Regions from separate parts of the Homo sapiens genome. Here region 1 is linked to region 2. Evidence: fine-mapped expression QTL. A gene starts in region 2. The other region holds a variant in brackets. All regions are shown on one strand. Distances are between the middles of the regions. Region 1 has its middle 12 kb from the start of PXN. Region 2 holds the start of RAB35-AS1 (RAB35 antisense RNA 1).

Evidence for each region.
Region 1: its variant is fine-mapped to the expression of RAB35-AS1 in lung (TOPMed, PIP 0.97).

What each region holds. Positions count from the first base shown.
Region 1 is chr12:120,274,818-120,280,189 of GRCh38, forward strand. No RefSeq gene overlaps it. Among named protein-coding and RNA genes, the nearest start is that of PXN, 12 kb to the left of the region's middle. RefSeq lists an enhancer at 5,346-5,372. The variant A/G (reference allele first, on the strand shown) is at 2,129.
Region 2 is chr12:120,114,766-120,120,137 of GRCh38, forward strand. It overlaps RAB35-AS1 (RAB35 antisense RNA 1), which reads left to right and starts at 2,142. Exons shown (of 1, transcript NR_182302.1): 1 at 2,142-4,238. It overlaps RAB35 (RAB35, member RAS oncogene family), which reads right to left and starts at 1,988. Exons shown (of 6, transcript NM_006861.7): 1 at 1,834-1,988. The coding sequence starts at 1,885. RefSeq lists enhancers at 1,179-1,971, 1,972-2,763, 3,556-4,347, 3,767-3,866, 3,897-3,966 and 2 more and silencers at 1,689-1,818, 1,919-2,228, 2,389-2,738, 2,829-2,888, 2,876-3,054.

The DNA of each region.
Region 1 (5,372 bases), 160 kb after region 2:
ACAGAGAGGTCTCACTTTGTTGCCCAACTGGTCTCAAACTCCTGGGCTCAAGGAATCCTCCCACCTCGACCTCCCAAAGTGCTGGGATTACACACATGAGCCACCATGCCCAGCTCAGTTTTTTTTTTTTCTTCTTTTCAAGACAGAGTCTCGCTCTGTCGCCCAGGCTAGAGTGCAGTGGCGCGATCTCGGCTCACCGCAAGCTCCACCCCCCGGGTTCACGCCATTCTCCTGTCTCAGCCTCCCGAGTAGCTGGGACTACAGGCGCCTGCCACCACGCCTGGCTAATTTTTTGTATTTTCAGTAGAGACGGGGTTTCACCGTGTTAGCCAGTATGGTCTCGATCTCCTGACCTCGTGATCTGCCCGCCTCGGCCTCCCAAAGTGCTAGGATTACAGGCGTGAGCCACCGCGCCCGGCCAGATTCCTTATTTTAATAGTTACATATTTATGTGTTAGAAAATTATCTAATTAGCACATAAAACCTGTGATGGCTCCAATATTATTTATTTATTTATTTTATTTATTTTAATTTTTGAGACGGAATCTCGCTTTGTCACCAGGCTGGAGTGCGGTGGCACAATCTTGGCTTACTGCAACCTCCGCCTCCCGGGTTCAAGTGATTCTCCTGCCTCAGCCTCCCGAGTAGCTGCGACTACAGGCACCCACCACCATGCCTGGCTAGCTTTTGTATTTTTAGTAGAGATGGGGTTTCACCATGTTGGCCAGGATGGTCTCGATCTCTTGACTTCATAATCCACCTCCCTCGGCTTCCCAATGTGCTGGGATTACAGGCATGAGCCACCGCGCCTGGCCCAGCTCCAATATTATTGTTTAGGATAAAGATAAGGTTTTTTTGTTTGTTTGTTTGTTTTAAAGTGGGTCCACTTAAAGAAAACTATGTAGGGACGGGCACAGTGGCTCACGCCCATAATCCCAGCATTGTGAGAGTCTGAGGGCTGAGGAGGGTGGATCACCTGCGGTCAGGAGTTCAAGACCAGCCTAGCCAACATGGCAAAACGCCATCTCTATTAAAAATACAAAAATTAGCCAGTGTGGTGGTGCAGGCCCCGTAGTCCCAGCTACTTAGGAGGCTGACGTGGGAGGATCACTTGAGCCTGGGAGGCGGATGTTGCAGTGAACCGAGATTATGCCACTGCACTCCAGCCTGGGCGACACAGCAAGACTTCATCTCAAAAAAAAAAAAGAAGATTTGAGCTAGAATTCCAGTTTTCCTCAGTTCCCATTTGGGGATCCTGGGAGAGTCTCTCAGCCTCAGTTTTCTCATCTGTGAGATGGGGATATTGAGAATTCTTCTCCATATGGCATGCCTGCCTGGAAGGGCTTATAAACAAAGAATTGTGTCTGGGCATGGTGGTTCATGCCTATAATCCCAATACTTAGGGAAGCCGAGGTGGGCAGATCACTTGAGGTCAGGAGTTCGAGACCAGCCTGGCCATCATGGTGAAACCCCGTCCCTACTAAAAACACAAAAATTAACTGGGTGTGGTGGCGTGCACCTGTAATTCCAGCTACTTGGGAGGCTGAGGCAGGTAGAATCACTTGAACTCAGGAGACAGAGGTTGCAGTAAGCTGAGACTGGGCCACTGCACTCCAGCCTGGGCAACAGAGTGAGACTCCCATCTCAAAAAAAAAAAAAAAAAAAAAAAAGTTAAAGAAAACAAAGAATTATAAGGTCAAAAAGGATCTCAAGAGATTCTTCAACCTTTTCTCAGGTGAAGGGGGCTGGATTTCCACCTTCATCCTCCTCTCTATCACCTAAGGACCCCATATGTTGACCGGGTGTCCACCTGGAAGTCATCCTCTGTTCCTCCCCGTCCTCGCTTTCCACACCCAGTTCTGCCTGTCCATCTGCAAAGTGTAGCCCAATTCCCACCCCCACCCCCTCATTTTCACCTCTGCAATTATATCTCTAGGTGCAGCCACGCACTACCCTCTCTTGCCTGGGATTACTGCATGAACCTCCAAACTGGACCTCTATTGTCAATTTTCTACCCAGAAGCCAATAAGCCAATGTTATCTTTTTAAAAAAATTTTTTTGAGATGGAGTCTTGCTGTATCACCCAGGCTGGAATGCAATGGCGCAATCTTGACTCACTGCAACCATC[A/G]CCTCCCAGGTTCAAGCCATTCTCCTGCTTCAGCCTCCCAAGTAGCTGGGACTACAGGCACGCTATCACGCCCGGCTAATTTTTCTTATTTTTAGTAGAGACAGGGTTTTGCCATGTTGCCCAGGCTGGTTCTGAACTCCTAACCTTGGGTGATCCACCCCCCTCGGCCTCCCAAAGTGCTGGGATTACAGGCGTGAGCCACGGCACCAGCCTAATGTTATTTTATTTTATTTTATTTATTTATTTATTTCGAGACGGAGTCTCACTCTGTCGTCCAGGCTGGAGTGCAGTGGTATGATCTCGGCTCACTGCAACCTCCGCCTCCCAGGTTCAAGTGATTCTCCTGCCTCAGCCTACTGGGTAGCTGTGATTACAGTCACACGACACAACACCTGGATAATTTTTTGTATTTTTAGTAGAGACAGTGTCTCACCATGTTGGCCAGTCTGGTCTTGAACTCCTGACCTCTGGAGATCCGCCCCCCTCGGCCTCCCAAAGTGCTGGGATTACAGGCGTGAGTACCCGGCAATGTTATGGTTTTTTTGTTTTTTTTTTTTAGTATTTATTGATCATTCTTGGGTGTTTCCCAGAGAGGGGGAAGTGGCAGGGTCATAGGATAATAGTGGAGAGAAGGTCAGCAGATAAACACGTGAACAAAGGTCTCTGGTTTTCCTAGGCAGAGGTCCCTGCGGCCTTCGGCCTTCAGCAGTGTTTGTGTCCCTGGGTACTTGAGATTAGGGAGTGGTGATGACTCTTAAGGAGCATGCTGCCTTCAAGCATCTGTTTAACAAAGCACATCTTGCACCGCCCTTAATGCATTTAACCCTGAGTTGACACAGCACATGTTTCAGAGAGTACGGGGTTGGGGGTAAGGTTATAGATTAACAGCATCCCAAGGCAGAAGAATTTTTCTTAGTACAGAACAAAATGGTGTCTCCTATGTCTGCTTCTTTCTACACAGACACAGTAACAATCTGATCTCTCTTTCTTTTCCCCACATTTCCCCCTTTTCTTTTCGACAAAACCGCCATCGTCATCATGGCCCTTTCTCGATGGTCGCTGTCTCTTCGGAGCTGTTGGGTACACTTCCCAGGCGGGGCGGCCTGGCAGAGGCGCTCCTCACCTCCCAGAAGGGGTGGTGGCTGGGCAGAGGCGCCCCTCACATCCCAGACGATGGGCAGCCGGGCAGAGGCGCCCCCCACCTCCCTGATGGGGCAGCCGGGCAGAAACGCCCCCCACCTCCCAGACGGGGTGTCCGGGCAGAGGCGCCCCCCACCTCCCAGATGAAGGGCGGCCAGGCAGAGGTGCTCCCCACCTCCCAGACGGGGGAGCCGGGCAGAGACGCCCCTCACCTCCCAGACGGGGTGGCTGGGCAGAGGCGCCCACTTCACAGACGGGGCGGCCGGGTAGAGGCACTCCTCCCAGATGGGGTGGCGGCCGGGCAGAGGTGCTCCTCACATCCCAGACAGGGTGGCGGCCAGGCAGAGGCGCTCCTCACCTCCCAGACGGGGTGGTGGCCGGGCAGAAGCGCTCCTCACCTCCCAGACGGGGTGGCGGCAGGGCAGAGGCGCTCCTCGCCTCCCAGACAGGGTGGCAGCCGGGCAGAGGGGCTCCTCGCTTCCCAGACGGGGCGGCCAGGCAGAGGTGCTCCTCGCTTCCCAGACGGGGCGGCCGGGCAGAGGCTGTAATCTTAGCACTTTGGGAGGCCAAGGCAGGCGGCTGGAAGGTGGAGGTTGCAGCGAGCCGAGATCACGCCACTGCATTCCAGCCTGGGCAACACTGAGCACTGAGTGACCGAGACTCCGTCTGCAATCCCAGTACCCCAGGAGGCCGAGGCGGGCAGACCACTCGAGGTCAGGAGCCAGAGACCAGCCCAGTCAACAGGGCGAAACCGTGTCTCCTCCAAATATACAAAAACCAGTCAGGCGTGGCGGCGCGTGCCCGCAATCCCAGGCACTCGGCAGGCCAAGGCAGGAGAACCAGGGGAGCCCGGGGCAGGGAGGCTGCAGCGAGCCGAGACCACGGCAGTACAGTCCAGCCTTGGCAACAGAAGGAGACCGAAGAAAGAAAGAGGGAGCGGGTGAGGGGGAGGGGGAGGGGGATGGGGGAGGGGGAGGGAGCTGTTATGTTTTTTTTTTAAAAATCAACTTTATTGGGCTAAGTGCAGTGGCTCATGCCTGTAATCCTAGCACTTTGGGATCTTGACATAGCTGATCTCAGATCTTGGCATAGCTGTTCACGTGCCACCTCTGTGGGTCCTGAACATTTTATCTAAAGTCTCCCCGTACCCCACCAAATCAGACTCCTTACCCTGGTATTTGTTGAGGTTCACCTTCTGCCATTATATTCTGCGTTTATTTGTGTACTTGTTTATTATTTGTCTCTGCCTCCCCCATTAAAATGTCAGGGCTATGAGAACAGGGACTATGTCTGTCTTGTTTGCTGCTTGTTCACCAGCATCTGGAATGGTAGGTTTGAGTAACTATTTTTGAACGAATGAAAGACTGGCAACATGGAGATGCCAGGAGATGAGTGAGCTGGGCTGCATAATTAGTTGTAGCATCAGGATGAAAACCCCAATCTCCTGGCCCCCAGCCCAAACCTCTCTCCTCCTTCTCAGGCCATTCACAGATCTTCCCAGGACTGACACACAAGACAGTACAGGGGTCTTAACTGCAGTGGTTTTTTTTTTTTTTTTTTTTTTTTTTTTGAGACGGACTCTCCTCTGTCGCCCAGGCTAGAGTGCAGTAGCGCGATCTCAGCTCACTGCAAGCTCCACCCCTCGAGTTCACACCATTCTCCTGTCTCAGCCTCCCGAGTAGCTGGGACTACAGGCGCCCACCACCATTCCCGGCTAATTTTTTTTTTGTATTTTTAGTAGAGACGGGGTTTCACCGTGTTAGCCAGGATGGTCTCAATCTTCTGACCTCGTGATCTGCCCGTCTCAGCCTCCCAAAGTGCTGGGATTACAGGCATGAGCCACCATGCCCGGCCCGTTTTTTTGTTTGTTTGTTTGTTTTCCCCAAGATGGAGTCTTGCTCTGTTGCCCAGAGCTGGAGTGCAATGGCACAATCTCGGCTCACTGCAACCTCCGCCTCCTAGGTTCAAGCAATTCTCCTGCCTCAGCATCCCGAGTAGCTGGGATTACAGGCGTGAGCCACCACACCCGGGTAATTTTTGTATTTTTAGTAGAGATGGGGTTTCACCAAGTTGGCCAGGCTGGTATCGAACTCCTGACCTCGTG
Region 2 (5,372 bases):
CAAACCCATCCCCTGGGCTTTACAGAGGAGAAGAGCCAACAAGCTGCATCTTCCTGCTGAGTTTAGGCTTTTCACTGTTGGATATCAACGCAGAGGTCCAGATGTCTTGCAGAGGGATAAAGGCTCCTGACCACGGCGGGCTGTCACTCCAAAAAGAGAGAAATGGCCCCAGTGCCAGTCCCTCAGAACCCAGGCCAGGGCTGCAAGGAAATCATGTAAAGGAAGAAGCCTCAAGACCCTGAAGAATACCAAAGGCCATCTCCAAGAGAACACTCCAGAGCTTGCCTGGTTTCCCTTCATTCAAACCATAACCAGTCAGTACTCCACCTTTCTACCTCCTTCCCCAACCTCAGTTACTCTTCCATCTCCCTGGTTAGCCCCCAGCTTTCCCCCTTACCTCTCCCCTCCTCCAGCAACCACGGAAACCTCAGCCATCCTTCACCTGATCCAAACCACCAACCACATCTCCATCCAGCTTTAAAAGGGAGGCCAAAACCACCCACTTCCCTGACCTAGCTCTGACATCGCTACCCAACACTCCTACATCCCAAGTCATACCGCTCACTTGATTTGATCCCCTTTCCTTAACAGTCCATGGGCTCTACCACCAGCCTGGCCTCTGCCTCCAATCATAAGACATCCCTCCCCACACTCAGCTCAGGTCTGGTCTACAAACTGAGCATGCTCCCAAGACTCTTTCATGAACATCATATAACCCCAGCACCTCAGTTTCGCTCCCATAAACCTTCTGGGGCCTGCCTTCCTGACCTCTTGGTCACTCCATAAACCTGCTCACCTGCCACACTCCAAACAGCTCTAAAACCCTCCACCTTTTCCCAGAAACCAGTCTACCTTTTCGAAGGACACTTAATATTCATTAATTCCTTCTGCAAATATGTCTTAAGCATGTACTGGGTGCCAGGCACTGTTCTAGGCACTGGAGCTAGAGCAGTGATCAGAGCTAGGAGCCCTCAAGCAGTGTGTGTGTGTGGCCAAAGCACTTTTATAATTTTGGCTGTCCCATCCCCAGGACCCCTCTGTATATAGTAGTGTAACAGCAAACAGTGACAACTCACTATGTGCCAGGAGCTGTGAGCAACACTGCAGAATCTCACTTAATACTCACATCAACCCCATAAGGCAGATCCAACTATCATTCCATCTTACAGATGAGGAAACTGAACCACGCAGGGATATAATAATTCAGCAGGAATATGCCAGACCCTGTGCAAAGCCCTTTATCCGACTTACCTCATTTAAACCTCACGGCAATCCCATGAGGCAGGTTCTGAGAACGTCCTCATTTTAGATGGGAAGAAACTGACGCTTATAAAGGATACTGATGATAATGACAATAGTGAACATTTACTTCGAGCTTACTTTACCGGGTAGGGCGCTACGCACTTTTCCTACTTTATCCCATCGAATCCTCACACCACCCAGCAAGGCACATCCCCACTTCTCAGATGAGGGAACTGAGGCTCAGGACGGCGAAGCAACTTGCCCAAGGTCAGCGCGAGGCAGGTGGTAGTCCTGAGACTCGAACCCACGTCTCTCCAACTCCAGAGATCGCGCGACTTGACCAAGGTCACACGTGAGGCAGGAACAGGCGCGATGACTGGACCCGGCGCGCTTGGCCCCTCCGCCCCGCGCCCCAACCTCCCCTCGGCGCGGTCCGGAGCCCCTCGGCGCACCCCTGGGGCCCAGACCGCCGGGCTGCCCCGCCCGCCCGCCCCGCACGGGCCGGCACCTCCCCGCCCGCCTGCCGCCCCGAGGCCCCCGCGGGCCGCGCCCGGCAGGGCCCGCGCCGCCTCCGGCCGCTGCGGCCCTCACCGCTGTCGCCGATGATGAGCAGCTTGAAGAGGTGGTCGTAGTCCCGGGCCATGGCGGGCGGGGGCGGTGCGCGCGGGCGGGCGGGGTCGGTACTGGCCTCGCGATCCGCAGCTCCCTTCGGGCTGCTCCGGCAGCGGCGGATCCACTTCCCGAACAAACAGCCGGAACTGACAGAAACACCTCCCTCCGCTCCCCCTCCTCCTCCTCAGCAGCCGCCGCCGCTACCACCGCCTCCCTCCTTCCCGCCCCGCCCCACCACTGCGCAGGCGCAGCGTCTGGCACCGCCTTGCGCAGCCGCAGCCTGAGCCGGCCGCGCCCGGGTCGCGCACGCGCCCTGACGGAGTCCCAGCAAGCGCGGGCCCGTCTTCCTCGCGTCTCCTCGGGGAGCGTCGTCGCCGCCACCCTGGGCGCTGAGAGCTTGCGGAGCCGAGCCGCTGTCGAGTCCCAGCGGAAAGAAGCCCAAGGTGCCGGAGAAGCCCGGTCGTGGACGTTGTTGCTCCCTCATCTTCGAGACCCGCACGCCCTGCGGAGAGGAAATGACAGGCACGCCGCGACCGTGGGGCGGGGCTCGCACGAGCTCCGGGTTTCCAGAGGCAGGGGCCGGGGCCGTAGAAGGCAGAGTCGCGCGGGGAAGGCCCGGTACCCCGCCCCTTCCGCACCGACCCCTCCCCCGCGGAGCTGGCCCCGGCCCCGGGCCTGTGGAGTGGACGCCGAGGGCGGCGGGCGGCTTCCGAGTTGGACAGAACGGGAGCTGCCGGCGGGAGCAGAGCTGCGAGGAGGTGGCCTTTGAGGGCAGCGCGGGGTCGAAATCCCATCCCAGCGCTGTGACCTCTTGGAGCCCACATTGCCTCTTTGGTGGAGGGGAGGGAGTGGTCCAGCTCCGAGCCGAGCCTGGGAGCTGAATGACCCAGTGTGCAAGGCGCACCTCGGAGACCGAAAGCAACCGCTCCCCCGGCTTCAATTTCACACCACCTGCAGATACACGTCTCAGAATCTGCGGCTAGGAAGACCTGGGCCGCCAGAAGCTAAACGTGTGCATTTTGTCATCAGCCCCGGTTTCTCGTTTTAGAGTGAGTTCCCACCTGCCCTACCTAAACTGACCTGAAACGGAAAGTTGTATGCCCCCACGACCATCCTCACTGCAGAACTGCAGAGGGTTTTAAGCTCCTTATTACCTGTTTCTTATAATCCTGTCCCTTTCCAGGCGAGTATTTATCGGATAGTTCTACTTGTTTTATCAAACTTCCTTTTCTTTTGACTTTATAAAAAGCAATGCCGGGAGGCTGAGGCGGGAGAATCGCTTGAACCCGGGAGGCGGAGGTTGCAGTGAGCTGAGATCTCGCCATTGCACTCCATTCTGGGCAACAAGAGCGAAACTCCGTCTCAAAAAAAAAAAACAATGTTCGTCCTTAAAATTATGTGCAGAAGTTTACTGAAAAGTACAAGTTACTATTTTTCCTTCTGAAGCACTCCTCACAGGTAACCCCTGTTAGTTTCACAGGTAACCTTAAAATGCTTAACACATATTTGTTGAATGAATAAGTGCCCCCCAGTGAATTTCCTTTGCCTGTACAAACATATATGTACATACCTTGCTTTTTCTATTTAACAGTACACTTTTATCATTTAACATCTGCGTGGTATGGTACTCCATCCGATAACCATCGGATGTACTATTATTTAACCACTCCGCTATTAATAGACATTCATGCTGTTTATATTTTTTGGTTATAATAAACATTGTTGCAGGCGGGATCATTGAACAACACATGGAGTGTCTGACTCAAGCCTTGAGTTGTTTTTCCGGGAGCTGAGAATCAGTGTGGTGATATCGAAATAACATGAGCTTGGAATCTGAAGGTACTGGCTAGGGAGAAGAGCTGCTCATGTGCTCCCGATAGAAAGTCCCCCTTGGTCGGGAAGGTTAGGGCCATCCTCTGACTCAGCAGTTTTAGGAAATAGAGGGGGAGAAGGAAGGTATGTACCTTCCTTCCACCAGGGAGGCACGCCCAGCCCTAACCAGCCAGCGAGGCAGTAGGTCCTCCTAGCTCATCTTCACAACCTGGGCTGGTGTCGGGAAGACTTTCGTTCCAATGCTAGCTTTGGAATCCTGGCCTCCATCCCTTAAAAGCTTTGTGATCTTAGGTAAGTCACATCACACTATCTCAAAGCCCCCGTTTCCTCACAGAATGGTTGTTTTAGAGTTATGTTTGTAAATTACCTGGCACATGTAGGCATGTGACAGACTGTAACCAATGTTACTCAAGGTCATTTTGCACTGATTCATACTTTGAGCCATTTCCTACTGTAGACTCTAGCACACATTTTCAAGGCAGCTTCCTGATAATAAGGCTGTAGGATATTTTTGGGAAATAAATCCAAATTGGCCATTAAAACCAGATTCCTGACTTTGCCTGCATGTGTCATCTGGAAAGCAATCGGCATAAATTCCTTCATTTCTTTGGTAACTATTTAATGAGTGTTTATGTGCCACGGATTGCAGAGGTTATAAGAAGAGAGCCTTAGGCCGGGCGCTGTGGCTCACACCCATAATCCCAGCACTTTGGGAGGCTGAGGCGGGAGGATCACGAGGTCAGGAGTTCAAGACCAGCCTGGCCAAGATGGTGAAACCCCATCTCTACTAAAAATAAAAAAAATTAGCCGGGCACGATGGCAGGCGCCGGTAATCCCAGCTACTCGGGAGGCTAAGGCAGGAGAATCGCTTGAACCCGGGTGGCAGAGGTTGCCGAGATTGCACCACTGCACTCCAGCCTAGGCGACAGAGCAAGACTCCGTCTTAAAAAAAAAAAAAAAAAAAAAGGAACAGAGCCTTTTCTCACCAGTTCACAGCCTCATCAAGAGTTAAGACATACTCATGAGGAAATTGAAAGTATAAGACAATACAGTAGATAGAAAAGCTGTCAGATATGCAGTCTAGACTTCAGAGGAGGAAAGCTATAGCTTTTAGTTAGAATGATGGGGAGAAGATTTTATCATAAAGATGTCATGATGGCACTGGAATAGGAGAGCTTTGAGTGTCTATTTAGACAGTCCCTGTCACAGTCTATGAGAATCATCATTTGGCTTGGAGGGGAATTCCCTGCAGGCCAGGGTATGTGCCTGGCATCTCAAAATGAATCAGCACATTTTCTTCTGGAAACATTGTTAGACATTTATTTAAACTACAGTTCAGTGATGAGTTATGTTAAGCTTTCTTTCTCCTTCTCACTGTATACATATGTAAACTTGTGTGACCTAAAGGATCAGTGTGTCCAGTAATGGGAAACTTTGTTCCACTGCTCTGAACAGCTAACTTACAGATGAACTTTTGCAACACCACCTGTTTGCACATTAGAAACTATTAATACGATGAGGAGGCATTGAAAGTTTTTGAGCAAAGAGGCAATCTCAAAATATTTTAGTGAAGTAATCTGGCAGGGTGCAGGATGGATTTCAGCTGCAGAGCTTTAAAGGTTATTGCTGAAGCCTGGGTGTAAGGTAACAGCAGGGACAGATGCAAAAGACAATAAGCAAACTTA